Linked DNA regions of Homo sapiens. The protein of the gene in region 1 interacts with the protein of each later gene in a pairwise test. Each region holds a gene or a part of one and is shown on either strand. Other genes may lie near its edges.

Region 1 (17,110 bases):
GTAAACATGACCCAGGGTGAGGGCCAGGAGGTGTCCCAGCCCCGAGGTTCTCCCTGGATGAAAAATGGGCACTGTGGTGAGAAGAAAGGGGACCGGCGGTCAGCCCCGAAGCCAAGCAAGACCTGGTCCCCACCAGGAGTATGGGGGTGGGGGCTGAGCTCAGGAGGGGACATGTTAGAGGGGGCTGCCTGGAGCTGAAGAGGGGCTCTGGAAGCCACACTCGGTGTGCGGCTTTTTCTCCGCCACTAGGTCAGCACCTGGGCCTTCCTAGGCGGTGAGTCAGCTGGTGGCCTCCCCTCCCTGGGGGAACCTGCTAGAAGGTCACCTCGGGCCATGGCTACCCAGCCCAGGAAGGGAGGTCAGGCAAGCTCCCAAGGGGCCCCAGGCCTAGGGGCCAAGACTGAAGGATGCAGTCAAGGAGTGTCTGGAGAGCCCTGTGAGAGCCACCACGGAGACACAGACAGGGCCCGCGGCCAGAGAGCCACTGCCACCAGGAGCACCACCATGAGGCCTGGCAGGGGACTTTTGGCAGAGTCCTGCCTCAGCCAGCCCAGGCCAGGAGCCCCGAGGACCAGGCCACCTCACCCTTCCGGTCCTGCACTAACACCTGCACCTGTGTCCCCAGTCACTACCCTCCCAGCCACCGTCCTGCTCCTGGAGGCAGGCAGGCACAGAGCCAGGCCAGCTCCTCTGGCAGGTCCCGGAGCAAGGCCAGGCCCAGGTGTGGCTGCCATGACCGATCCTCCCTCTGTCCACCCTGAAGGCCTGGTCAGGAGCTGCACTAACTGTGCATTTGCTTTTCAGGCCACAGATCGCCCTCAGTCCCAGTGACCCTCTGAGCTGCAGGCCCGGCAATGCCTGTTGCCAGCACAGGCCTCTGCCCGGCAGCTCAGGCCAGCCTGGGGCCGGAGTTCTCAGGAAACCTCCCCCTCAGGCCCTGGATTCTCCTTAGTGTTGCACGTGACGTTCCCCTCAAGGGTAGGCCTTCTGGGTCACATGGTCCTAAAGGCCCACTCAGAATCCAGCACCTTCTCAGAGCCTGCATCCCCCAAAACCAGGCCACTCAGGGCCTGGGGGCCAGCCTTGCCCATGATTTCCCTCAGGATCTGCTCCCCCAGTCTCTCCAGGACCCGGCCTGTCCCAGAGGGCATAGAGCTTGTGTCCCCCTAAAACAGGCGCCCTGGTGGCCTCAGGGCTGGACCCGGCTGCTGAGCCACTGGCCACGCAGGGCCCGGATCTCCTGGCCATAGCACTCGTGCAGCCGGGCGAAGGGGGCCATGTCCAGGGGCCCGTGGGGTGCCGAGGCCCGGCGGCGAGGCGGTGGTGGAGGGGGCTCGGGTCCAGGCCTGAAGGTGGCCTCAGTGCTCCAGACAGCGCAGCCATTCTCCTTGGGCGGGAGGGCACTGGGCCGGCGGGGCAGGGGCAGGGCTGGGACCGGGGCTGGGGCAGAAGGCAGGGATGGGACTGGGGCCAGGGCAGAGGGCAGGGACGGGGGCAAGGGCAGGGACTGGGGCTGGGGCTGGGGCAGGGCCATGCCACCCCCGCCACGTACAGCCGCCAGCTGCTGCTCCAGCTCGCGCACCACCAGCCGCAGGTAGTCGAAGCTGGCACGCGACAGGGCCTTGACCCAGCCCTCCATGGCATCCTGACTCTCAGCGGCCAGCACGTAGGTGCGCGCCCGGGTCCCCGCAAAGCGCACAGCGAAGGCGAACTCCTCGGCGGCCTCCACCAGCTCCACAGTGCAGCCCTCCAGGATGATGACGCCCACGGGCTCACGGCTGGCAGCGTCCTCGAAGTAGAAGAGCATGTTCCCGCGCAGCACGAACCAGCGCCGGTGGTAGGCCGCGTGCCGCCCACCCTTCTTGTACAGGAAGCCTGCATTGTCCACCGGGGCGTCACAGGTGGCGTAGAAGGCCAGGCTGCGCTCGTTCAGCTTCATGGTGGCAATCGCGGGGCCTGGAGGGGAGCCTGGGGCCTGGACCCCATAGAAGGGCTGTTATGCACAAGGCCACTGACGCTAGGTCACCCAGTGCCCCAAGGGGACCTTGCAGCCACTCTACATCCCCGTTTCACAGATGAGGAAACTGACGCTCATAGGGTGGAAGCAGCTGGCCTATGCGCCCACAACTCCTAAGAAGCAGAGACAGGACTGGAACCTGGGTCTCACGGGCCTCCCCAGACAGCCTCATAACCTCCTACCCTCCTGTATCCCTGAAATAATGTTGTGAGTTCCTGCTGCATGCCAGACATTTCAGAGGAATGAACTCACTTTATCTCACAATAGACCTTAGGTCACAGGGACTGGCCTGGCACCAGTGCAACAGATGAGGAAACAGAGGCACAGAGAGGTTAACTGCTTCCCTGGTGTCACAAAGCAGGTTGGGCAGGGCTGAAATCCAAACCCAGGCCTCATTTCAGGCGCTGCTGTTTCCATCATCCCAAGAACAAGACCAGCTGGCCTTCTGCAGTCCCTGCCAGGTCCCAGCCCTGACTTTGTGGTTCGACTTTGGTTTGTTCATCCATGAAATGGATGAGCAGAACCAACTTTGGAGAGTTGTAGAGATTGATTTCATTCATAAAATGTTTATTAAGCATCTACTGGGTGCCAGGCATTGTTCCAGGCCTAGGGATATAGCAATAACAAGATGGACAGGGTCGTCCAGCCTGGCCAACACAGTGAAACCCCTTCTCTACTAAAAATACAAAAAATAAGCCAGGCGTGGTGGCGGGCGCCTGTAATCCCAGCTACTCGGGAGGCTGAGGCAGGAGAATCACCTAAACCCAGGAGGCGGAGGTTGCAGTGAGCCGAGATTATGCCATTGCACTCCAGCCCGGGCAATAATGTGACACTCTGTCTCAAAAAAAAAAAAAAAGATGGACACGGTCCCTGCCCTCGTGGTGTTGAAATGCCACTGGCAAGTGAAAGGGAGCAGACAGTTAACAAACAGATAAGACGTCTGCCAGGTAGTCTCATGTTCTATGGAAAATAGTAAGACAGGGGCTGGGCACAGTGGCTCACGCCTGTAATCCCAGCACTTTGGAAGGCCAAGGCCAATCCTTCTCACCTGAGGTCAGGAGTTCGAGACCAGCCTGGCCAACATGGCAAAACCCCATCTCTACTAAAAAACAGCCAGGTGAGGTGGTGCACGCCCATAATCCCAGCTACTTGGGAGACTGAGGCAGAAGAATCGCTTGAACCCAAGAGGCGGAGGTTGCAGTGAGCCAAGACTGCGCCATTGCAGTCCAGCCTGGGCGACAGAGCAAGACTCCATCTCAAAAAAAAAAAAAAAATAGCCAGGCATGGTGGGGGGTGCCTATAATCCCAGGTACTTGGGAGGCTGAGGCAGGAGAAGTGCTTGAACCCAGGAGACAGAAGTTGCAGTCAGCCGAGATTGCACTACTACACTCCAGCCTGGGGACAGAGCCAGACTCCGTCTCAAAAAAAAAGAAAGAATTTGGGGAAAGATGCAGGCCCAGGGCTAGGCTGACTTACAGGAAGGAGGGGCAGGGGGTCGACCCGTGCCATTTAGCATAGAGGACTCTAACTCCATGCCATCGGCCACAGTGACCCCATCCACCTTCCCCCAAGGAGTATATGATGGGGCAACGCTGGCCAGGAAGGACTTGTCGGGAGGTGGCATCTGCGTCCCTGGCCTGGCCACCTTCCCTTGGGGTTTTCCATGGCCATTTTGAGAGCCTGCCTTATCTCCCACTGCAGAGCCTCAGCCTGCATAGGATGGTAGCTACATTTTTCAAGAAGCAAAGGATATAAAGTCCTGGTACGCAGTAGGCACTCAGTGTTCATTCCCCTGCCTGGGTGGTGTCTTTCTCAGAGCCTGGTGGAATGAGGTCAGGGTGGTGGCTCTCCTGGGAGCAGGTGACCGCAGTGAGGCCCTGCCAGACTACCTGTCCTAGGGTGGAGGGGGTTGTCCTTGCCACCTCCTGTCAGCCACATAGGCAGTCAGGGAAGGCTTCCTAGAAGACGGAACATGAGTTGTGACTTAGAAACTGAGATCAACCAACCCAAATGCCCATCAATGATAGACTGAATAAAGGAAATGTGGTACATACACACCATGGAAAACTATCCAGCCATAAAAAGGAATGAGATCATGTCCTTTGCGGGGAAATAGATGGAGCTGGAAGCCATCATCCTCAGCAAACTAACACAGGAACAGAAAACCAAATACCGCATGTTCTTACTCATAAGTGGGAGTTGAACAATGAGACACATGGACACAGGGAGGGGCAGAACACATATCGGGGCCTGTTGGGGGATCGGGGGTGAGGGGAGGGAACTTAGAGAACGGGTCAATGGTGCAGCAAGCCACCATGGCACACGTATACCTATGTGACAAGCCTGCATGTTCTGCACATGTATCATGGAACTTAAAATAAAAAAAGAAACTGAGGTCAGTTTGTCCTGACCTAGTGGGAGGCCAAGGCCAGAGCCCCCAAAGTCTCCAGGTGTTGAATCCCCACCCTGCCTCTCAGCTACAGCTGTCCCTCTCTAAGCCGCAGGGATTCACGCATTCCCCACACCACCACCCATCAACTCCCATGTGGATGCTGGCCCCGGTTCTCACAGGACCCTCCCGCCCTGCTTGCCCAGTTCCGCTCCTACCTCTCAGGCCACCACTTGCCTCCCTGCCCTCTGCTCAGCTCCAGCCTCAGCTCGCTCTTCTCTGGATTCAAATGTCAGCTCTGCAGCATCTGGGCTGGGGGACCCCAGGCAGGCTATTCATCTCTCTGGGCCTCTGTTTCTGCATCTGTAAAATGGGATCGTAACAGTGCCTAAGTCAGGGCTGTTGTGACAATGATACAGTGACTATATGGACTTTGCGGAGCATGGGGCCAGGCACACAGTGCCTGCTGAGCGCGGTTGCAGTTCACATTTTTCTTGGCTTTTCCCCAAACATCCCTGTGTTGTGCTTCCGATCTCAGCAAATGGCCCTTGGTTTCCCTCTCACCCCCGCATCTGATCGCACATCAAGTCCAGTTGATCCCCCTCTCCAGCGTCTTCCAAATCAGTTGCCTAATCTGTCCACTCCACCTCCCCATTCTAGGCCCCATCACCATTCACTGGGATGGCTGCTGTAGCCTCCTCATAAGTCTCCTTGCCCCTCCCTGTCCATGTTCCTCAAGGTAAGATCCAAGCCTCCTTCCTAAGCTCTTCTCCGAGCCACACTGAAATCCACTTCCCACAGATGGATCCTGTGAAAATTAAGTCCAATCACACTCCTCCTCTGCTCTAAACCCTCCCATGGCTCCCTACTTCTCTCAGCATAAAATTAAATCCTTAGGCAGGGTGCGGTGGCTCACACCTGTAATGCTGGCACTTTGGGAGGCTGAGGGGGTAGGATTGCTTGAGTTAGAGACCAGCCTGGACAACATAGCAAGACCCTATCTCTATAAAAAATAGAAAAAAAAATAGCTGGGCATGGTGATACAAGCCTCTAGTCCTAGCTATCTGGGAGGCTAACATGGAAGGACCCCTTGAACTTGGGGGGTGACATAGTGAGATTCTGTCTCAAAAAAAAAAAAAAAAAAATCCAAGCCTCCCTTGGCTTCCAAGTTCCCTTTCCCTACCTCTTTCCCCCTTGTTCACTCAGCTCCAGCCATCCTGGCCTCCTTTCTGTTCCTCAAATACACCAGACACATCCCCACCTCCAAGACTTGGTCCCGGCTGTCTGCCTGCAGGTCTTCACAAGGCCAGCTCCCCATCCTTTGGTCTCAGCCTAGCTGTCACCTCCTCAGAGAGGTGGTCCCTGGCCACCCTATGCACAAGAGGCCCCCCAGTCCCTCTCCTGTGCCTCCACCTGAAATTAATACCTGGGTCATTTCTGCCTGCAGGGGCGTTTGTGGTCTGAATTCTAGTGCCTGGCATGCAGTAGGTACTCACACAGCTGTTTGATTCATTCTGCAGTATCTTCTGAAACCTTTCAACAGCCCCAAGACAAGGGATCTCACCCCACATTCACAGATGTGGAAATGGACACAGGGAGATTCAATAAGTTGGCTAGAGGCATACAACTGTGCCCAGAATCACATGCTCCAGGCAAGCCACCCAAATAAAGGGGCTGATCTTGGGGTCTCTCCACCCCATCAAGGCCAAAGGAATAGCAACTTCCCTCCTGCTCAGCAACCCTCCTCCCCCGACTGCCTAGATAGAGGCCAAACTGGTTCAAGGTCACCAGCAGGCACAGGACCCAGCTCTGCCCATGACCCCTGCCTCCACCAGAACTGGGAAGACAGGAAGCTGCAGGGGCACAGGCGCCAGCCTTGCCTGGAGCGAAGGCCTGGCCCCTGCCTTATCTCCCCACACTGTTTTCCAAGAAGTTCAGAGTCCACTGTGGGCACTGCTGCTGATTCAACAGCCCATGGCCAGACAGGAAGCTGGAGGGAGCCTGGCCCAGCTCTGCTCCCAAGGCAAAGTTCCTGCCTCCGCAGGTCCAGGCTGGAGGACCTTGGACAAGTCGTTTCACCTTTCCAAGTCTCAGTGTCCTCATCTGTTAAATTGGGCTGTGTGGCGAGGGTTCATGAGCTAAAAGAAGGAAAACCCACTGGCAAACTATGGGAAATGGATTGCAAATATTAGCTGCTGTGAGTCGGAGTTTTTTCTCAGCCTCATCTGCAAAATGGTGACGTTAACTTCCATCCCTCTAAGGGCTGAGTGAATTGACTCCTGAAGAGTCATTTTGCAAAATACTTGGTGGGTAGTGAGCTTTCAGGGAAAGAGCTGTCAAAAAGGCAAATAATTCATCCAAGATCTCCAGGGGCACAGCTGGCCCCGGAACCCAGGTCTCCTGGGAGACTGAAGCATGGCATTTTGGCACTCACATCAACGAAAAGAAGCCAGTACCGCAGGTCCTGGGGTTGAATCCAGCTGCCCTCAGTGTCCCCCAGCAGCGGGCGTGGGGAAGAGGGTGTGGCAGGCACAGGCTGAAAAACATGTGTGCCAAGAACACTAAAGAGCAGCCTGGCCGTCACCGCCCCAGCAGGGACCCCAGAGACACGCCAGCACCGCCGTCCAGACACAGGCAGCCCCCTTGTCCACGGCAGGGGCTGCTGCTCCAGGTGTGGCCCTGCTCCCGGCTGCTCTCTGTCCCTTTGTGTGTTGTGCGTGGGAGCTCTCTTAAGTTCCTTAAAGGACAGCCAGAGCCCCAGATGGGTGATCAGCGGCAGAATGGGGGGCTTATCCGCAGTCCCCACCAGCGGCAGACGTCCCTATGGGCTGAGAGAGGGGAGGGTGGTCATTGGCCAAGTTCGCCTCGGCAGCTGGAGAAGTCACCACTGGTGCGGAGTCCCAGCGGGGAAGATCCCCGCAACGCGCTCTCCAGGTGGCCGGGGGACCCCGAGGCCCAGGGCGGCCCGACCCGGGTCCCATGTCCTCGTGCATGTCCCCCCGCCAGGCCCGCCTTACCTCGCAGCGCAGGCCTAGGGCGGCGACGGGACGGGAGGCGCGAGGTTGCGGGGTGGCCCGGCCATGGTTCGGGACTGGCCCGGTGGCGGCGACGGCGGCGGCAGCGCTTTGTCTCCTGGGCGGCCGGGCCGGCGCAGCCGCGGGAGAGCGCGGATCCGACGGAAGGAGGCGGGAGCAACCGGACAGTCCGCGACCCACGGGCGCGCCCCTTTAACCCTTCCCAGCCTGCTCGCGCCGGGCCCGCCCCCGCGTTCTTCCCACCTCCCGATTGGCAGGCCCCGAACCGGCACGCCCCCGTGAGCCCGCCCTCGAAATCACTCTTAAAGGGTCCGCTCCTGGCTCGCGACTCCCCAGTTCCCTAGCCCAGAAAAGCGGATTGGAGCCCGGGAAGCTCATTGCGATTCCAAAGGTAAGGACTGGCCCAGGTCGTGGATTAGCCTGCAAAAGCATTTGGGGGTCCTGGGCGGGCCATTCGCTGAAGTCCTAGGCTTAAGTCCGAACTCCCCCCAGGACGAGGCAGGAGGATTGCCTGAGCCTAGTAGTTCAAGACCAGCCTGGGCAGCAGAGGGAGACCACCATCTCTACAAATAATAAAAATATTTGCTAAACCTGGGTTGCCAGGTTTAGCAAATTTAATGCCCAGTTAAATTAGAAAAATAGCTCTAATTCCTGAAAAATGTGTGAGTGGCAGAAAAAACAGCTGAATCCAGGACATTTGCGTACAGCACTGTTCCATACGGACAGGGCGCCTCGCAAGCTTCCCCTGGCTCCAGGTGAAGAGAGGAAGTTCTGGAATTAGGCAGACTTGAGTTCGAGTCGCACTAGGCCACTGAACACTGTGTGAGCTTAGAGAAATCATTTCACTTCTCTAAGCCTCCGTTTCCTCATCCGGAAAATAAAGACCATCATGATATGTAAAGTGCACGGCACAACAGAAAGCTCTCAAGAAATAGGAATTGCTGTTGTTTTTGCCCTGCCCACCTCCTTGAACCCTTCCTTCCTGTTCCTGCCGCCTCTTCTCCACCACCCGCCACCTCCCAATCACTATTAAGTCCTGGCCTGAAAGCAGGAAGAACAGGACAGACCAGGGTCAGCTCTCCATTGTACAGCCTCTCACTAAGCGCCTACTGTGTGCCAGGCACTGTACCTGAACCAGGTAAGCAGGTGCAGCCAGGAATCAAGACAACACAAATGAGTTCTGGAAGTGATTCATGCTAGGACTGTACGCTAAGGCAATGGGGCAGAAAGCCTGGGAGTGCAGTTTTTTTGTTTTTGTTTTTTGTTTTTTGTGTTTTTTTGTCACCCAGGTTGGGGTGCAGTGGCACAATCACAGCTCATTGTAACCTGAACTCCTGGGTTCAACCGAGCCTCCCACCTCAGCCTCCCAAGTAGTTGGGACTACAGGTGTGTACCACCACACCCGGCTAATTTTTTTTAATTTTTTGTAGAGATCGGGGGGGTCTTGCTATCTTGCCCAAGCTGGAAGTGCAGCTTTTAGACAAGGTGGTCAGGGAAGGCCTCTCTGAGGACAGACCTGGAGGAATGAGGGAGGGAGCCATGTGGTTATCTGGGAGAAGGAGGTCCCAGGCAGAGGGAACAGCAAGTGCAAAAGCCCTGAAATGGGGCCATCCTGGGCATGTTTGAAGAACAACGAGGAGACCAGTGGAGCCAAGTGAGCAATGGGAAGAATAGTAGGAAAATAGGTCAGCTGGCTGGGCGCAGTGGCTCACGCCTATAATCCCAGCACTTTGGGAGGCCGAGGCAGGTAGATCACTTGAGGTCAGGAGTTCGAGACCAGCCTAGCCAACATGGTGAAACCCGGTCTCTACTAAAAATACAAAAAAAAAAAAAAAAAAAAATTAGCCAGGCATGGTGGTGTACACCTGTAATCCCAGTTACTTGGGAGGCTGAGACAGGAGAATCACTTGAACCCAGGAGGCAGAGGTTGCAATGAGCTGAGATTGCACCACTGCACTCCAGCCTGGGTGACAGAGCAAGACTCTGTCAAACAAAAAAAAAACAAAAACAAAAAAAAAAACACAATAGATCAGAGATTATTGGCAAAGCCAGAAAGCCAGGTGACCTAGGGGCTTAAGGACCAGAGGAAAGATTTTGCTTTTACTCTAAGAAGAATGAGGAGCCATGGGAGGGTTTTGAGCAGAGGAGGGACATGGTCTGTGTTAGATTTAACATGGTCCCTGACTGCTATGGGCAGGGAATGATAGTAGAAGCCAGGCGATCAGGGAGAACACTACTGCAGTAGTCCAAGCAAGTGATGGTGGTGGCTTAGAGTGGAGCAGTGGAGGTGGAGAGAAGTGGTTAAGTATAGATATATATTTAATGGATATATGTATTAGTCCGTTTTCACACTGCTGATAAAGACATACCCGAAACTGAGAACAAAAAGAGGTTTAATTGGACTTACAGTTCCACATGGCTGAGGAGGCCTTGGAATCATGGCGGGAGGTGAAAGACACTTCTTACATGGCAGTGGCAAGAGAAAGTGAGGAAGAAACAAAAGCGGAAACCCCTGATAAACCCTTCAGATCTCGTGAGACTTATTCACTATTATAAGAATAGCGTAGGAAAGACTGGCCCCCATGACTCAATGACCTCCTCTTGGGTCCCACTCACAACACGTGGGAATTCTGGGAGATACAAATCAAGTTCAGATTTTGGTGGGGACACAGCCAAACCATATCATTTTGCCCCGGCCCCTCCAAATCTCACGTCCTCACATTTCAAAACCAATCATGCCTTCCCAACAGTCCCCCAAAGTCTTAGCTAATTTCAGAATTAACCCAAAATTCCACAGTCCAAAGTCTTGTCTGAGACAAGGCAAGTCCCTTCTGCCTATGAGCCTGTAAAATCAAAAGCAAGCTAGTTACTTCCTAGATACAGTGGGGATGCAGGTATTGGGTAAATACAGCCGTTCCAAATGGGGGAAATTGGCCAAAACAAAGGGGTTACAGGGCCCATGCAAGTCTGAAATCCAGTGGGGCAGTCAAATTTTAAAGCTCCAAAATGATCTCCTTTGACTCCGGGTCTCACATCCAGGTCACGCTGATGCAAGAGATGGGTTCCCATGATCTTGGGCAGCTCCACTCCTGTGGCTTTGCAGGGTACAGGCTTCCTCCTGGCTGCTTTCACGGGCTGGTGGTGAGTATCTGTGGCTTTTCCAGGCACACAGTGCAAGCTGTCAGTGGATCTACCATTTCAGAGTCTGGAGGATGGTGGCCCTCTTCTCACAGCTCCACTAGGCAGTACCCCAGTAGGGACTCTGTGTGGGGGCTCTGAACCCCACATTTCCCTTCTGCACCACCCTAGCAGAGGTTCTCCATGAGGGCCCTGCCCCTGCAGCAAACTTTTGCCTGGGCATCCAGGCATTTCCAAACATCTTCTGAAATCTAGGCAGAGGTTCCCAAACCTGAATTCTTGACTTCTGTGCACCCACAGGCTCAACACCACATGGAAGCTGCCAAGGCTTGGGGCTTCCACCCTCTGAAACCACAGCCTGAGCTCTGTGTTGGTGCCTTTCAGCCATGGCTGGAGCAGCTGGGACACAGAACACCAACTCCCTAGGATGCACACAGCACAGGAACCCAGGGCCTGGCCCACAAAACCACTTTTTCCTCCTGGACCTCTGGACCTGTGATGGAAGGGGCTGCCAGGAAGTTCTCTGACATGGCCTGGAGACATTTCCTCCATGGTCTTGGGGATTAACATTAGGCTCCTTGCTACGTAATGCAAATTTCTGCAGCCGGCTTGAATTTCTCCCCAGAAAATGGGCTTTTCTTTCTATTACAATTTACTTCTTATTTTTTTCTTTTCTTTTCTTTTTTTTTTTTTTTTTTTTTTTTTGAGACAGAGTCTTGCTCTGTTGCCCAGGCTGGAGTGCAGTGGTGTGATCTCAGCTCACTGCAACCTCCGCCTCCTGGGTTCAAGCGGTTCTTCTGTCTCAGCCTCCTGAGTAGCTGGCACCAGGTGCACGCCATTGCACATGGCTAATTTTTTGTATTTTTGGTAGAGATAGGGTTTCACCATGTTGGTCAGGCTGGTCTTGAACTCCTGACCTCAGGTAATCTGCCCACCTTGGCTTCCCAAAGTGCTGAGATTACAGGCTTGAGCCACCGCTCCCAGCCTGCAAGTTACCTCTTGAATGCTTTGCTGCTTAGAAATTTCTTCTACCAGATACCCTAAATCATCTCTCTCAAGTTCAAAGTTCCACAGATCTCTAGGGCAGGGGCAAAATGCCGCCAGTCTCTTTGCTAAAACATAACAAGAGTCACCTCTGCTCCAGTTCCCAACAAGTTCCACATCTCCATCTGAGACCACCTCAGCCTGAATTTTATTGTCCATATCACTATCAGCATTTTGGCAAAGCCATTCAACAAGTCTCTAGGAAGCTTGAAACATTCCCACATTTTCCTGTCTTCTTCTGAGCCCTCCAAACTGTTCCAACCTCTGCCTGTTACAGTTTCAAAGTCACTTCCACATTTTTGCCTATCTTTTCAGCAACACTCCACTCCTGGTACCAATTTACTGTATTCATCCATTTTTGCACTGCTGACAATGACATACCCAAAACTGGGAACAAAAAGAGATTTTTTGGGTTTTTTTGTTTTTGTTTGAGATGGAGTCTTACTCTGTCACCCAGGCTGGAGTGCAGTGGTGCAGTCTCAGCTCACTGCAACCTCCGCCTCCTGGGTTCAAGCAATTTTCCTGCCTCAGCCCCCTGAGTAGCTGGGATTACAGCTGCCACCACGCCTGGCTAATTTTTTGTATTTTTAGTAGAGGTGGAGTTTCACCATGTTGGCCAGGCTGGTCTCGAACTCCTGACCTCTTTTTTTTTTTAAATACTTTAAGTTCTACAGTACATGTGCACAACGTGCAGGTTCGTTACATATGTATACATGTGCCATGTTGGTGTGCTGCACCCATTAACTCGTCATTTACATTAGGTACATCTCCTAATGCTATCCCTCCCCCCTCCCCCCACCCCACGACAGGCCCCGGTGTGTGATGTTCCCCATCCTGTGTCCAAGTGTCGAACTCCTGACCTCTTGATCTGCCCTCCTCAGCCTCCCAAAGTGCTGGGATTACAGGCGTGAGCCACTGCGCCCGGCCAAAAAGAGGTTTAATTGGATTTACAGTTCCACGTGGCTGCGGAGGCCTCAGAGTCATGGCGGGAGGTGAAAGGCACTTCCTACATGGTGGCGGCAGGAGAAAATGAGGAAGAAGCAAAAGCAGAAACCCCTGATAAACCCATCAGATCTCATGAAACTTATTCACTCTCATGAGAATTACACGGGAAAGACCAGCCCCCATGATTCGATGACCTCCCCCAGGGTCCCTCCCACAACACATGGGAATTCTGGGAGATACAATTCAAGTTGAGATTTCAGTGGGGACACAGCCAAACCACATTAATATATATTTAAGATATATGTAAAATTTGATGATAGGTTGCATGTGGGGAATGAGAGAGAGACAGAGAGAGAGGAAGGAAGAAAAGGAGTTAAGAATAACTCCAGGGGCCGGGCACAGTGGTTCACGCCTGTAATCCCAGTACTTTGGGAGGCCAAGGTGGGTGGATCACGAGGTCAGGAGTTTGAGATCAGCCTGGCCAAGATGGTGAAACCCCGTCTCTACTAAAAATACAAAAAAAATTAGCCAGGCGTGGTAGTGGGTGCCTGTAATCCCAGCTACTCGAGAGACTGAGGCAGAGAATTGCTTAAACCCGGGAGGCAGAGGATGCAGTGAGCTGAGGTCACCCCACTGCACTCCAGCCCGGGCGACAGAGCAAAACTCTGTCTCAAAAAACAAAAAAAAAGAAAAGAAGAAAAAGAACTCCAGGGCCAGGTATGCTGGCTTACATCTGTAATCCCCGCACTTTGGGAAGCCGAGGCAGGAGGATCACTTGAGCCTGGGAGTTTGAGACCAGCTTGGGCAACACAGGGAGACCCCATCTCTACAAATGATAAAAATATTACCCAGGGCTGGACACAGTGGCTCACACCAGCAATCCCAGAACTTTGGGAGGCCAAGGTGGGTGGAGACCTCGTCTCTACAAAAAATAAAAAATAAAAATAAAAAGGACTCTCAACTTTTGGACCTAAGTAATGGGAAAAATGGAGATTCGAAGGGAAAAATCCAGATTAGTCTTTTCATCAAATTGAGCTGGAATAACTGGATATTCATATAGAAAAAAACAGCCTTGATACTTACCTCATGCCATACATAAAAATTAACTCAAAATACATCAAACTCTTGCACATAAAAGCTAAACTCTAAAATCTCTAGAAGAAAATAGGGGCTGCCAGGCACAATGGCTCATGCCTGTAATCTCAGCACTTTGGGAGGCCAAACAAAGTGCGAGGATCGCCTGAGTTAGTGACCAGCCTGGGCAAAATAGTAAGAACCCATCTCTTAAAAAATTGTTTTTTAATTAGCTGGGTGTGGTGGCGCATGCCTGTAGTCCCAGCTACTCAGGAACCTGAGGCAGGAGGATCGCTTGAGCCCAGGAGGTCAAGGCCGCAGTGAACTAGGATCACGCCACTGCACCCCAGCCTGAACGACAGAGTGAGACCCTGTCTCCAAAAAATAAGTAAATAAGGTCGGGCACGATGGCTCACACCTGCAATCCCAGCATTTTGGGAGGCCGAGGCGGGCAGATCATGAGGTCAGGAGTTTGAGACCAGCCTGGCCAACAAGGTGAAACCTCATCTCTACTAAAGATACAAAAAATTGGGCCGGGCATGGTGGCTCATGCCTGTAATCCCAGCACTTTGGGAGGCCGAGGCGGGTGGATCACCTGAGGTCAGGAGTTCGAGACCAGCCTTACCAATATGGTGAAACCCTGGCTCTATTAAAAATAAAAATAATTAGCCGGGTGTGGTGGCGTGTGCCTGTAGTCCCAGCTACTTGGGAGGCTGAGGCAGGAGAATTGCTTGAACCCTGGAGGTGGAGGTTGCAGTAGCTGAGATTGCACCACTGCACTCCAGCCTGGACGACAGAGCGAGACTCTGTCTCAAAAAAAAAAAAAAAATACACAAAATTAGCCAGGCATGGTGGCACATGCCTGTAATCCCAGCTACTCGGGAGGCTGAGGCAGGAGAATCACTTGTACCCGGGAGGTGGAGGTTGCACCAAGCCAAGATCGCGCCATTGCACTCCAGCCTGGGCCACAGGGCAAGACTCTACCTCAAAAAAAAAAAAAAAGGAACTAAAAATAATAAAATAGAAAATCTTTACAACTTTAGGATAAAGATTTCTTAAGACTCAAAGAGCATAAACTAGAAAAAAATAAAAATTGGACTTCAGTAGGTTGGGGGGTTTTTTTTGTTTTGTTTTTTTGAGACAGGATTTTGCCCTGTTGTCCAGGCCGGAGTGCAATCTCAGCTCACTGCAACCTCCATCTCCTGGGTTCAAGCATTTCTTCTGCCTCAGCCTCCCAAGTAGCTGGGACTACAGGTGTGTGCCACCATGCCTGGCTAATTTTTGTGTTTTTAGTAGAGACAGAGTTTTGCCATGTTGGCCATGCTGGTCTCGAACTCCTGACCTCAGGTGATCTGCCGGCCTCACCCTCCCAAAGTGCTGGGGTTATAGGTGTGAGCCACTGCACCCGGCCCATATTGACTTTAAAAAAGATAAAGGTTGTTTTTAAAACCTGTTTAAAAAGAGAGAGAGAGGGAGGGAGGGAGGGACGGAGGGAGGAAGGAAAAGGGAAAGGAAAAGGAAAAGGAAAGGAAAGGAAAGATACCATCAGAGAAACAAAAAGATAAGCCACCAACTAACTGAGAAAAAAAATTTTCTTGATATATATATCTGACAGAATCTGAATGCCAGATCTATATAATGAAGTCTTACAACCCAATAATAAGATAAGCAACCCAATCTAAAGACAGGCAAAAGATGTGTGTGTGTGTGTGTTTGAGACAGGGTTTGGTCCTGTTGCCCAGGCTACAGTTCAATGGCATGATCTCCGCTCACGACAACCTCTGCTTCCCAGGCTCAAACCATCCTCCCATCTCAGCCTCCCAAGTAGCTGGGACTACAGGCGCGCGCCACCATGCCTGGCTAATTTTTTTTTTTTTTTTTTTTTTTTTGTATTTTTGGTAGAGATGGAGTTTCACCATGTTGCCCAGGCTGGTCTCGAACTCCTACACTCAAGCAATCCTCCCACCTGGGCCTCCTGAAGTGCTGGGATTACAGGCATGAGCCACCATGCCTGGCCCAGGCAAAAGATGTTAACAGATATTTTATAAAAAGCTGTAATATGGGCCAGGTGTGGTGGCTCACGCCTGTAATCCCAGCACTTTGGGAGGCCGACGTGGGTGGATCACAAGGTCAGGAGATTGAGAATATCCTGGCTAACCTGGTGAAAACCCGTCTCTACTAAAAATACAAAAAATTAGCTGGGCATGGTGGCGTGCGCCTGTAGTCCCAGCTACTTGGGAGGCTGAGGCAGGAGAATGGCGTGAACCCAGGAGGCAGAGCTTGCAGTGAGCCAAGATTGTGCCACTGCACTCCAGCCTGGGCGACACAGAGTGAGACTCTGTCTCAAAAAAAAAAAAGCTATAATATGATATACTGGCTAATAAGCAATGAAAAGATGCCCAGTGTCATTACACATCAGAGAAATGCAAATTGAAACCAAATGAGCTAATACCATGTTCCAATTAGAAAGGCCAAAATTAAAAAGACTGACAACACCAAGTGCTGGTGAGGATGTGGAACAACTGAACTTCCATACTGCTGATGGGAAGGTAGAATGGTATAGCCACTCTGGAAAACAAATTGGCAATTTCTTGTAAAAATGAACAGAAACTCTGCCAGGCAAGGTGGCTCATGCCTGTAATCCCAGCACTGTGGGAGGCTGAGGTGGGCGGATTCACCTGAGGTCAGGAGTTTGAAACCAGCGTGGTCAACATGGTGAAACCCCATCTCTACTAAAAATACAAAAGTTTGCTGGGCGTGATGGTGGGCGCCTGTAATCCCAGCTACTTGGGAGGCTGAGGCAGGAGAATCGTTTGAACCTTGGAGGTGGAGGTTGCAGTGAGCCGAGATCGCACCACTGCACTCCAGCCTGGGTGACAGAGCAAGACTCTGTCTCAAAAAAAAAATAAAAAGGCCGGGTGCAGTAGCTCACGCCTGTAATCCCAGCAGTTTGGGAGGCCAAGACGAGTGGATCGCCTGAGGTCAGGATCAAGACCAGCCTGACCAATACGGCGAAACCCCATCTCTACTAAAAATACAAAAATTAGGCAGGCGTGGTGGCATGCGCCTGTTGTCCCAGCTACTCCGGAGCCTGAGGCTTGTTTGAACCTGGGAGGCAGAGGTTGCAGTGAGCCAAGATTGCACCACTGCACTCCAGCCTGGGTGACAGAGCAAGAGTCTGTCTCAAAAAAAAAAAAAAAAAGAAAAAAAAAAAAAAGAACAGAAACTCGCCATGTACAACCCAGTAATCCCACTCCAAAGTATTTACCAAAGAGAAATGAAAACATGACCACACAAAGACCTGTATGTGACTATTCATAGCAACTTTATTCAGAAACACCAGAAACTAGCAACAACTCAAATATTCATCCACAGATATATGGAGAAACAAATTGTGGTACATCCATTTGATGGAATAGTGCTTAGCCATGAAAAGAAATAAAGTTTCCATTGACATTAAATAACCAG
Region 2 (11,060 bases), on another chromosome or scaffold:
TTGTCACTAATATCTTATCTCAAAAATATCCATGGTGACCATTACGTATCATAGGCCCCTATCCCTGTGTGCCCAAGACACCTCACTTGGATATTCATTGGCTTCTTGACATCATATTCCTTCCCAGTTTAAAAATTGTTCACTTAAATCTTGCCATCTCCCAACATTGGCTTCTGCCTAAAACCAATTTTCTCAGTCCCCACTTTTAGATCCTCTGTATCTATGCTGTCAGATTTACACGGAAGAAATTCCCACTGGCCCAACCTGCTCTTCTCTGAGACTATTGGTGCCACTCTAACTGGATGTCAGCTAATTCTGTGAAGTAGCTCTTTCATAGGTCCTGCTTAGTCAGCTCTACTGGGAAGTTCATCAAACCCGGATTTCATCAAACCCTGGAAGACTAGTTTAATGAAACTAAACTAAATTCAGAATTTAATAAAACAAAATTCAGCAGAAAAGTGGAACACCACTAACATTTCCAAAGGCTAGAGTGGGTTACAGAGAGGTGACCCTTGGGCAAACCAGTAAAACTTGTGTGCCTTGGTTTCCTCTAATGTAAAAACAAAATCATGAAGATTGAATAGAGTAGCTACATTGTTGAGATGACCACAGCCCAGAATCTAGTCCCTCGGATTAGTAGATTTGGAACTCTGTTGAGCTAATAAGGAAGTCGTGTGTTCCAATTCTGTGTAAGTTATGGGGGTATAGTTGGGGGTATATGTGGGGGTATGGGGCTGCTATATAACTAACATTAATATATAGGTAACACTATATAACAACTATATAACTAACAACTAATATAGTTGTTGCTATATTAGCAGTTTATATATAAACTATGTAAATAGTTTTAAATATATATAAACTATAGTTTTAAATACATATAAACTATAGTTTATATATAAACTAACATATAACTAACAACTAATATAGTTGTTGCTATATAACTAACATTCAATGGCTGCTTATGTGCCAGGTACTGTTCTAAGCCCTTTTCATTAGTTAGTTCATTTAATCCACATGTGAGGGTTACTATAAGATAGTAATATCATCATCCCCCTTTTATAGATACAGAAATTGAAGCACAGACAGGTTAAGTCACTTGTTTGCAATTAGGGAGTAGAATACCTGAGATCTGATCCTATGTAACATGTCTCAGAATTACACTGAGAAGTTTCTCTTGAAAGCATTTGCTGGAGACACCTAATACCATAATACCATCTGTAATCCTCATATTCTTGTCTCTCTGGTGTCTTTTCTGACTCGAGTGTCCAGAACTTTTTACTTTTGGCTTTTTTATCCTAGAACTTGAAGCCTGACTTAAATCTTTAGGTCTGTGGTTCCTACTGTCAACCATAGGAAATTTGCTTGACCAAAATTACAATTAAAAATCAGGGTTTTTTTGGAAACAGGGAATCAAACACTTAAGATTCATATTTTTCAAGGATAATAGATTATGACAAAACCTGTTTGACCTTTAACCTTCCTTGAACAAATCAAAGTGTTTCCTAGGGATAAGGCAGAGTTGGCATTCAGGATTTGTCACTCTTTTCTGTTTGACAACTACCAAATTCTGAATTCCATTGTTTTGCTGTATACCAATTATTTCTAATCTTTATATTCTGAAATGAATAATTACACTCAGAATTTTTATGCTTATTCTTAGCCCTACTCTTTTATTGTAATTTAGTGGGTAACACGTAGTAAATACTCAATAAATGTTGGTGAAATTCACTTAAATTCTCAGTTTATTTGTTTTGTAATAGTTTTTAACAGTACTGTCCAGATGAAGCTTTAATGCTAATGTTCAACACCATTTCTTGTTTATGTATTTTGAGATTTTAGTGGTTTGTGTTTATCTTCCTCAAAGTAAGCTCTTCCTCCTTAACCCTTGATTTCTCAGCCTTTTATCTGGTTTCTGGTTTCCATCTGGGTTTATAGGACTCTCCACTCAACTCATGAACTTTCCAGATGGAAAGGGGCCTGCCCCATATTCCTGTAATCACCTTAGAGTACAAACCCCTGCAAATTAGGCAAGAAGGATCACAGCAGAAAAACAGCATTAATACTTTTATTTCCCTTAGTTCTATCTAAGTAATTACTTATCCTATCCCAGGTTATCCTCTTCAAAGTTAACACATTTGAAAATGCAAAAAGCAAAAGCAACAAGCACCCCCAAAAGACAACAAAATAGAAATCAAACCCTTCAAAACAATGACATTTTAATGTCAGAAGTTGGACAGTTTCATTGAAAAATTCACCGCTGCTTATAGCTTAATTAAGCTAGTTAATTTATTCAGCCAGTATTTGTTGAGCATCTATTAGGCTGCAGACAAAACTGAATATGATCTGGTCTTTGCTTTCAAGGAGCTGAAATCAGTGAGGGGAAATAAATATAACCATAATGGAGTGTGTAAGTGTTCTATTAGAGGGGCAAACAAAGGCGATAAGGCTGCTGGTTCTGCTTGGGGGTACTGAGGACAGTTTCATGGAGGAGGTGATATTTGAGATGAAACTCGGAAAGAAACAGAGTGTTCCTGACAAAAAACTAAAAACAATACTTGAAGAGTGCTTGACTTTGAGAATGCTAGTTGACGTTCAGAATGGCTGTTTACCAGTAGGTCGTACCTTGATTCTGGACCACTAAGGATAAATAATAAATGAAAAATTAATATTTCAGGAGTACGTATGGATTTAGAAGTATGGATTTCATCTGGGGAGTCAGGTTTACTCATGTTTATGTAGAAATACCAGCGTAAACTTGGAAACCAGAGAAGAAACAAGGGATTTGAAGGCAATCCAGTTGTGATATCTGCCACCTTGTTGGTCACTGATATTTTGACCAATCCAGCTGGCTGAGCACCCCCTCTTACTCCTCCATGAACCTGAATGCTTGTTTGAAGAGACAGATCCATTCTTTGGTAAAAAGCCATGGGAATATAATTGGAAGGTTAATTTATGAATTTTCTAATTCATTGATTCCACACACACGAGCAACTCCTGTGTGCCAGGCTTTGTGCTAGGTACTAGAAATTCCGTGGTGTAAAGATAGCTGTGGTCCCTGCACTCATGGACTTCACATCTAGCTGTCAGTTCTTCACTCTGGTATGCATACTCTGAAGCTATATACTCTGTAATTCATGCTCTTAAGCTTGTACACTGTTTTTAGGATATATGGCCTAGAGAACAGTGTGGGTAATCAGATGTTCATCACCACTAGCATCCTTTTAGGCCTAGAGCAATATCTAGCTGTCATGATGCTCAGATCCAGGGAACTAGATGCAGCAAGTCTAGTAAATACAGACTAGATTTGTATAACAGGACAGTGAAGTATTTTTTTGCTAAATGAGTTTTTCAGTGGCTGTTCTTTGATGCGTTCTTCTGTTTCCTAGGTTAATAATCCAGTTGCATGAGAAGGAACAGCATGTTCAAGATATCATTCCTATAAATAGCCACTTCAGATGTGTTCAAGGTACTAGCTTTAATTCCTTAGCTAGTTTTATAATGTTTTTTCTCGGTCATTACTGCATTATGTAATACCATACATATTTAAATTTGTCAGTGCATGTAAAATGAAATGTATTACTCTTTGCATAAAAAGATAACATTGAGGAGATGATACTTTCTCTAAGAATGCTGAAGGGTTATATCGAAATATATTTGTATATGTGTGTCTATAGTCTCACCTGTTTCCTTGGCTTGGGTTAGAGATGTATGTAGATTGTTACCTGTGTAGGTAGTTTTTTATGCTGACTGACCTATATGTGGATTTAAATAACATTCTTGGGCTTAACGGACACAGTGCTCATAAGGTACCAAGGTCACTTGGATTCACACACATTCAGCACTTTCTCCACATGCTATTTGAAATTAAGACATTTGGCAACATGCCTTGCCAGACTGTAATATCTTACACTCAATTGTGCTGATTCTCAAACCTTGACATTGGTGAATCATAAGAAAATTGACTCTGGGGAGGAAATATTTGGCCTCCTGCCCTCAAATTTGGGGACGGAGCATAGAAAATCTGTTGTTTCATCTGCTACAATGAAACTTAAAAATTGGGAGGTTTGTGTAGGAGGTGTTGCTTCTGTCATCTCACATTGCTCTAGAAAGGAAATTGATACTAGAGAACAAATGCATTCTGTTTTCACTAGGACCAGTGGCTTTATCTAGCAGAAGCATTCTGTATCAATTGTAGCTTCTTGGAAAACTTGTTTTTTCAAGACAAGGTCATTTCCCAGGCTCAAGTGATCCTCCCACTTCAGCCTCCCAAGTAGCTGGGACTGCAGGTGCACCACCCCCCAGCTAATTTTTTTTGTAATTTTTGTAGTGACGGGGTTTCGCCATGTTGCCCAGGCTGGTCTCAAACTCCTGAGTTCAAGCAATCTGCCTGTCTCGGCCTCCAAAAGTGCTGGGATTACAGGTGTGAGCCAGCATGCCTGGCCTTTCTTGGAAAACTTAAATCTTACCTTGCATGGATTATTTCTTAAACTACATTGAACTTTTTTTTTAATCACTAAGTGACATGTACATAATGTAATACATTTGGAAAGAACAGAAAAGTGTAAAGAAAATAGGTCACTTAAATTCCCATCCTTTCAGAGATAAACACCTAGCATTTTCCTTTTTTCTACACATACATTGCAGGGTGAGTGATACTCATCTTATACAATTTTTTGTCTCTTCTACATGCTATTGTATTATGAGCACTTTTCCATGCCATTAATGGCTATATACCATACCAGTTTATGAATGGTCCATAATGTAATTATTCCCCTATGTTGACATTTGGGTTATTTTTCACTAGTATCAATAGTAATATGATGAACATCTCTGCACCTAAATATACCTGCACATCTCTTATTTCCTCAGGATGTATTCCTATAAGTGAAAATACTAAGCTAGTGGATATGACTTTTTAAGAATGCATGTGTTAAGAATTAAAAATAACTTCAATGAATAGTGTCCATATTTGTATGGAAGAATGAAGTGATAGCTATTTAGCCTGCCCTATGTGAGAGAGACATACTAAACAAGGTAGCCACGTTCCATAGTAAGTTGCTGTGGCCACCTCACTTTTCAAGGTGTAGGCCTTCACAGAGGGGAAGAGCCAAAGAACATGACTTTAAATTAATATCCTATTAGCTTTGTACCTTTTTACTCTACCTCTAGGATCTCTTTTACCCTGTTTCTCTTAGTATTTTTAATAAGAAATCAATTGCTGATTGTTAGATCGTAGTGCTGCTTCTTAGAACCTGGGAAAATATGTGCACACATGTAACGTAGTTCCCCATGACTAAAGGAAGACTTACTTTTGATTTTCATCTCCTTTCTATTTCCTGACCCCTGCATCTATTTTGTAAACTGTGGCCAGGCGCGATGGCTTGCACCTGTAATCCCAACATTTTGGGAAGCTGAGGCAGGAGGATTGCTTGAGCCCAGGGGTTCAAGACCAGCCTGGGCAACATTGCGAGACCCCATCTGTACAAAAATAAAATTAAAAAAACAACATTTGCCAGACGTGGTGGCAGATACATGTAGTCCCAGCTACTTGGGAGGCTGAAGCAGGAGGGTTGCTTGAGCCCAGCAGTTCGAGGCTGCAGTGAGCTGTGATTGTGCCACTGCATGCTAACCTGGGTGAGAGAGTGAGGCCATCTCTAAAGAAAAAGAAAACCGGCTGGGCGCGGTGGCTCAGGCCTGTAATCCCAGCACTTTGGGAGGCCAAGGTGGGCAGATCACAAGGTCAGGAGATTGAGACCATCCTGGCTAACACGATGAAACCCCGTCTCTACTAAAAATACAAAAAATTAGCCGGGCATGGTGGCGGGTGCCTGTAGTCCCAACTACTCGGGAGGCTGAGGCAGGAGAATGGTGTGAACCTGGGAGGCGGAGCTTGCAGTGAGCCGAGATCGTGCCACTGCACTCCAGCCTGGGTGACAGAGCAAGACTCCGTCTCAAAAAAAAAAAAAAAAAAAGAAAAAGAAAACCATCTGTAAACACTCAGGTTTTACAGAACTAAAAGTTAATGAAGAACAGTAGTAAGCATACAATATCTATGTCTTGATGCCCTAATTCCCCTTGTTTAATCATCCTAATAATAATATCGAGACTACTTTTTAGTGTTAAAGGAGTTAGTTCCTTGCCAGTTGCTTCTGTTGTACCTGAGTAATGGAGCCAAATAAACAATTCAGTCTTGGGAGGGAGGTGAAAAAGGTGAGACTACTCCATTTGACCAAGGTAGATCCAGGCTAATCCCAAGGAGTCAGTACCCAGAGTTCAATTAGCCAGGAGGGTCTGGCAGGTGCACTTGGTCAAATCCAGAGAAATCAGAGGGGAAGAGATAGGTTGGGTCTAGACACTTGTTGTAAAGGAAGAAGTCCAGGAGAACCATTGAGAGATAAGAGAAATCCAAACTTGCAGACTGCTTTGCACCCTGTTTGGTACGGAGGGCCTTGGGCCCACAGGTAGTAGTTGTAACCTGAAGGTATACTCTGCCCCCATGTGTGGGGCAGGGGCAGAGGTGATGAGATCACTGGGAAATTTTCAGAGAATAGATCTGAGTTAAGAAAGTAATTCACCTCTGGGCTTTCAGGGTCACTTCCTTTGCCTTCTGTTATCTAAAGAAGTATCTAAAGGACCCAGAGTTAAATCATTATGTTACAGTTAAGGGGAATTAAACTTGCTTTCGCTGAATTAACATGTTGTTATGTTCTGTACTATTAATTTCTCATTCGTTGATTTGCTTTGAGGAGTTCCATTTGGTTACTTCTTCAGTTCATTTTTATTTTAGTTGATTTGCTCATAGTCTTTAGAACCCAGTGCTATAAAAAATCCCTTTAAAAAATATTAAACGAAAAGGGATTTAAAAAAATATGTTCTAAGACCTAGGAGTAGTGACTGAGAGAAGCAGTTATTTAGTTAGGCATGTATTCTTTTGGTTGTAGTGAGTGGTTTTCTCTTCCCTAATCCTACTCTCTTTTTTTTCCCCTCTCAGAAGCAGAAGAAACTCTTTTGATTGACATAGCTTCTAACAGTGAGTATCTTTCTGAATGTGCTTGATTTTTACTCAACAAATATTTACTTGAACACTCACTACATTTAAGACACCTTTTGGGGCACATTTTTTATTTTACCATCTTTTCCTGTAGTCTCCTGTAGCAGCCATACAAATTAGCACTGTTTCCCAAAAACATGTAGGCTAAGCCTAAGAAAAAGCAGGTGGCTGGTAAGAATCTTTATAAAAATAAAAAATAATGATCTACCTTTCTAATGCTGAACTTCCGTGAGCTACCAGTATTGTTGCTGTCAGTTGAATCATTGCTGTAGAATTGATAATTGTAGGAAGGGCTGATGTTTAAAGCACATAAGGTTTATTGGTGGAGTTTTTTTGGTCATTTTTTAACTGCTATTACATTTTAAGTTTTTTCCCTACCCTCTTTTTAAATTTTGTGTGTTAAGTCATAATATTTTCCTTTATTTGTTGTATTTTTTTGGAAGGCTGAAGAGTCCCTTAAATTGCTTGTCCAGGCATTCCTTTAAAAAAAAAAGTTTAGTCTTTTATTTAAGCCCCATCCCCTCAAGGCATCTCTTTATTAGAGGGAACATGATCTTCTTTTCAATGTTTCCATTCTCTCATTTTTATCTGTTTGAAGCAAATCATCTTTGACTTTCTGTGCAAACTGTTCTTTGTTTATCATCTAATTGTACTATTTTATGGAGTGGAGAAAATGGGCACTCGATGCTACTGTGAGGTTGCTATGGAAAAGAGTATCTGACCACATGAATCTAAATCAAATGGGTTGCCTTATCTCTTGGTTGAGTCCTTGGATGAGTGGGAACTGGCACTGAGCTTGGGACTAGGGGTTTACATAACTTTGTTTAGACAGTCCCTGCCCTTGGCACTATTAATTTGTATTGAACACTTTAAGTAGGCTTTTTTTCTGGCTTGAGTTTTTTTTTTTTTCCCTTTGGTCGTGAATTTTAGAAGTCTTAAAGGCTGTGCCTGAAAGGCCAGGTAAACCCCAGCTGCAAGTATCCAAGAGAGAAAATAACTTAATGTCTATTTCTTATTGTGCTTAGAAAGGAGAAGGCAAAAACAACACTTAAAAAAGCAAAACTAGAACAAAAGCAATTCCATAACAACTGACACTGCTGCTGAAATAAGAGATGGAAATGTCCTGTATTTGATGTGGAGAAGTATTTGATTCAAAGCTGAAAAGTTAAACTGAGCTGTGCCTTTTCTCTTATAAGCACCTAATTTTCGGCATTAGTTTTGTTGTGGCCGCTTCTACATTAGCCATGTGTTGCTATGTCCAGAGTTCTAGTTACTGGCTCATAGGGGGAAAATAGGTAAGTGACCACTTGAATAAAATCCTTTGTTATTTCTACCCATTTAGTAGTATTTGCACTGAAACCATATTTTATCTTGATCCTTGGGCTTCATACATAAACCTTTATGGTACACGGTGTGTTGCAGGAAGGAGATCTTGGGTTTGTTAGGCAGGCCTGATTTTAATGTAAATATGCATTTTCCCATTGTCTGGATATTGGTGTTAAATGCTTTGTAAATAATTTTTTCTCACAGAAGTAATACATCTTCATTATATACAATTTACTAATTCAGAAAAGCTTAAAGTATCAAATTAAGATTATTTTCCTGCAATCTAGAGATCACCACTGTGGTTAACATTTTTATGTATTTCCTTCCAGTCTTTATATTTTTACATAATTGGAATCCTCATATGCAGTTTTTATCCTGCGTCTTCATTTAACATTATATTGTCCCATTTTCTTATGTCATTTACAATTACTTTATAATATGCTTTTTAAAAACCAAATATTTCACCATAGGTCTGTGCCAAATTTTATTAAATTAACTTCTTTATAAAATTAAGTCATTGTCAAGGAACATGATATATCTGTTTTTTTCAGGTCCTCTTTTATATCTTTCAATAAAATTTTATAGTTTCTTAATATATATAGTTTTTAGGTTAAGTATTTCGTGGTGGATTTTATTTGCTGCTATTGCGAGTGGAGGTTTTTTCTATGTCCTTCTAATTGTTTATTACTAGTATACAGAATAGCTGTTGAGTTGTGGATATTTATCTTTTATCCAGTTGCTTCATTGAAATTTATTTTTAATCTTTTTTGCTTTTCATTTTGTTTTTTCATTTTGGTAGCTAACCTTAATATCTATAAATAATAATTTTGTCTCTTTTCTAGTAGCTACTATCGTTGTACACTATACCAGTGAGAATTTTGGGACCAGTGGTAAATGATGATGTTTCTTGTTTGGCTCCTGATTTCAGTGAGAATGCCTCAAGTGGTATTTCACTGTTAATGACATTATTGCTTGTTGATTTGACAGGGTTTTTTTTTTTTTTAATTAAGAAACTGCATTTATTTCAAGTTTGTGTTTTTTAAAATTATGAATGTATACTGAATTTTAGCAAATGTCTTTTTGGTATTTATGGAGATGATTTTATTCTTCCTTATTTGACCAATTGGTACACTGTATTGTACTAATTTCCTAAAATTAAACTGTCCCTTGTTTATCCATTATTCAACAAATATTTGTTGAGTGCCTTCTATTTCTCAGGCACTTTTGTAAGTGCAGAATCAGTACAGAACGACAAAGATAAAGTTGCTGCTCCTACTTTGGTTCTTGCTTCTGTGCAATTCAGTACTAGTGTCACACAGATACCTATAATTCAATCATTCATTCTATAAAAATATGACTATTTTTTATGTGCCAGGAACTACACTAGGCTCTAGGGATATAGCAGAAAGCAGTACAGTCATGATACTTTAAGGATTTTAATATAGGAAACAGACTTTAAACTGATAAGATATAGATAATTGTAGTTTTTTTTGTTTGTTTTTTTGAGATGGAGTCTTGCTCTGTCATCCAGGCTGGAGTGCAGCGGTGCCATCTTGGCTCACTGCAAGCTCCGCCTTCCAGGTTCACACCATTCTCCTGTCTCAGCCTCCCGAGTAGCTGGGACTACAGGCACCTGCCACCATGCCTGGCTAATTTTTTGTGTTTTTAGTGAAGACAGGATTTCACCATGTTAGCCAGGATGGTCTCAATCTCTTGACCTCGTGATCTGCCCGCCTTGGCCTCCCAAAGTGCTGGGATTACAGGCGTGAGCCACCGTGCCTGGCCCAGATAATTGTAGTTTTAATAAATGCTCTTGAGGAAAAGTACTAAGAGTTTATGAGAAGAGTAAGTATATTAGGAGGGTGGTCAGGGAAGACCTCTTTGAAGAATTGACATTTAAATTGAGACCAGAGGGGCTAAGTAAGAGGCAGGTTAAGATGGGAGAGAGAAGAATTTACCAGGTAAAGGGAATCACAAGGCTCCAGGCTGGGAAGTAGCTTGACACTTTTCTTTGAAGTGATAGAAGACCAGGGTGCCTAAAACAGGTCTTGGGCACCAAGGTAAGAAAAACAGGCTAGGGGGCAGATCTGGCAGGATCTTGTAAGCCTTGTCTTAAATCTGAATTTTGAGATTTCAAAAATGAGAATCGTATGAAGGATTTTATGCTGGGGTGTCATCATTTGCATGGAAGCAGAGAGACCAGTTAGGAGGCTGTTTCCATAGTGTAAGCTAGAGAGTGTGGTGGCATTAGTAATGAAGAGAAGCAGTCAGACTTGATAGATGTTTTTGGAGGTAAAATCCATAGGAATTGTTTTGGGTGTAAGGGGTGAGAGGAAGTGTCAAGGATGAATCTCGGGTTTCTGACATGACTGTGGATGATGGTACCATTTGCAGAAATAAGAACACTGCACAAAGAATGAGTTTTCCTCAAGGGGGAAGGGTCATTAATTTAGTTTTAGTCATGTTTAGTTTGAGATTTTTTTTTTGTTTTTTGAGATGGAGCCTCGGTCTTATCGCCCAGGCTGGAGGGCAGTGGCGCGATCTCAGCTCACTGCAACCTCTGCCTCCCGGGTTGAAGCTATTCCCCTGCCTCAGCCTCCTGAGTAGCTGGGATTACAGGCACCCGCCACCACGCCCAGCTGATTTTTGTACTTTCAGTAGAGATGGGGTTTTGCCTTAT

What was found.
Region 2: the proteins of PHETA1 (region 1) and OCRL interact in binary tests that used the Homo sapiens proteins (3 or more experiments, as listed by UniProt).

The regions. Positions count from the first base shown.
Region 1 is NC_000012.12:111,361,489-111,378,598, forward strand, and holds the start of PHETA1 (sesquipedalian-1), read right to left. Parts: upstream 7,608-17,110; 5' UTR 7,424-7,607; intron 7,235-7,423; exon of another isoform or gene 6,841-7,234; intron 4,770-6,840; 5' UTR 4,625-4,769; intron 4,164-4,624; exon of another isoform or gene 4,079-4,163; coding exon of another isoform or gene 4,076-4,078; intron 4,069-4,075; exon of another isoform or gene 3,907-4,068; intron 1,976-3,906; coding exon of another isoform or gene 1,940-1,975; coding exon 1,190-1,939; 3' UTR 1-1,189. UniProt on the Homo sapiens protein: Plays a role in endocytic trafficking. Required for receptor recycling from endosomes, both to the trans-Golgi network and the plasma membrane.
Region 2 is NC_000023.11:129,541,569-129,552,628, forward strand, and holds part of OCRL (inositol polyphosphate 5-phosphatase OCRL), read left to right. Parts: intron 1-3,389; coding exon 3,390-3,469; intron 3,470-6,994; coding exon 6,995-7,033; intron 7,034-11,060. UniProt on the Homo sapiens protein: Catalyzes the hydrolysis of the 5-position phosphate of phosphatidylinositol 4,5-bisphosphate (PtdIns(4,5)P2) and phosphatidylinositol-3,4,5-bisphosphate (PtdIns(3,4,5)P3), with the greatest catalytic activity towards PtdIns(4,5)P2.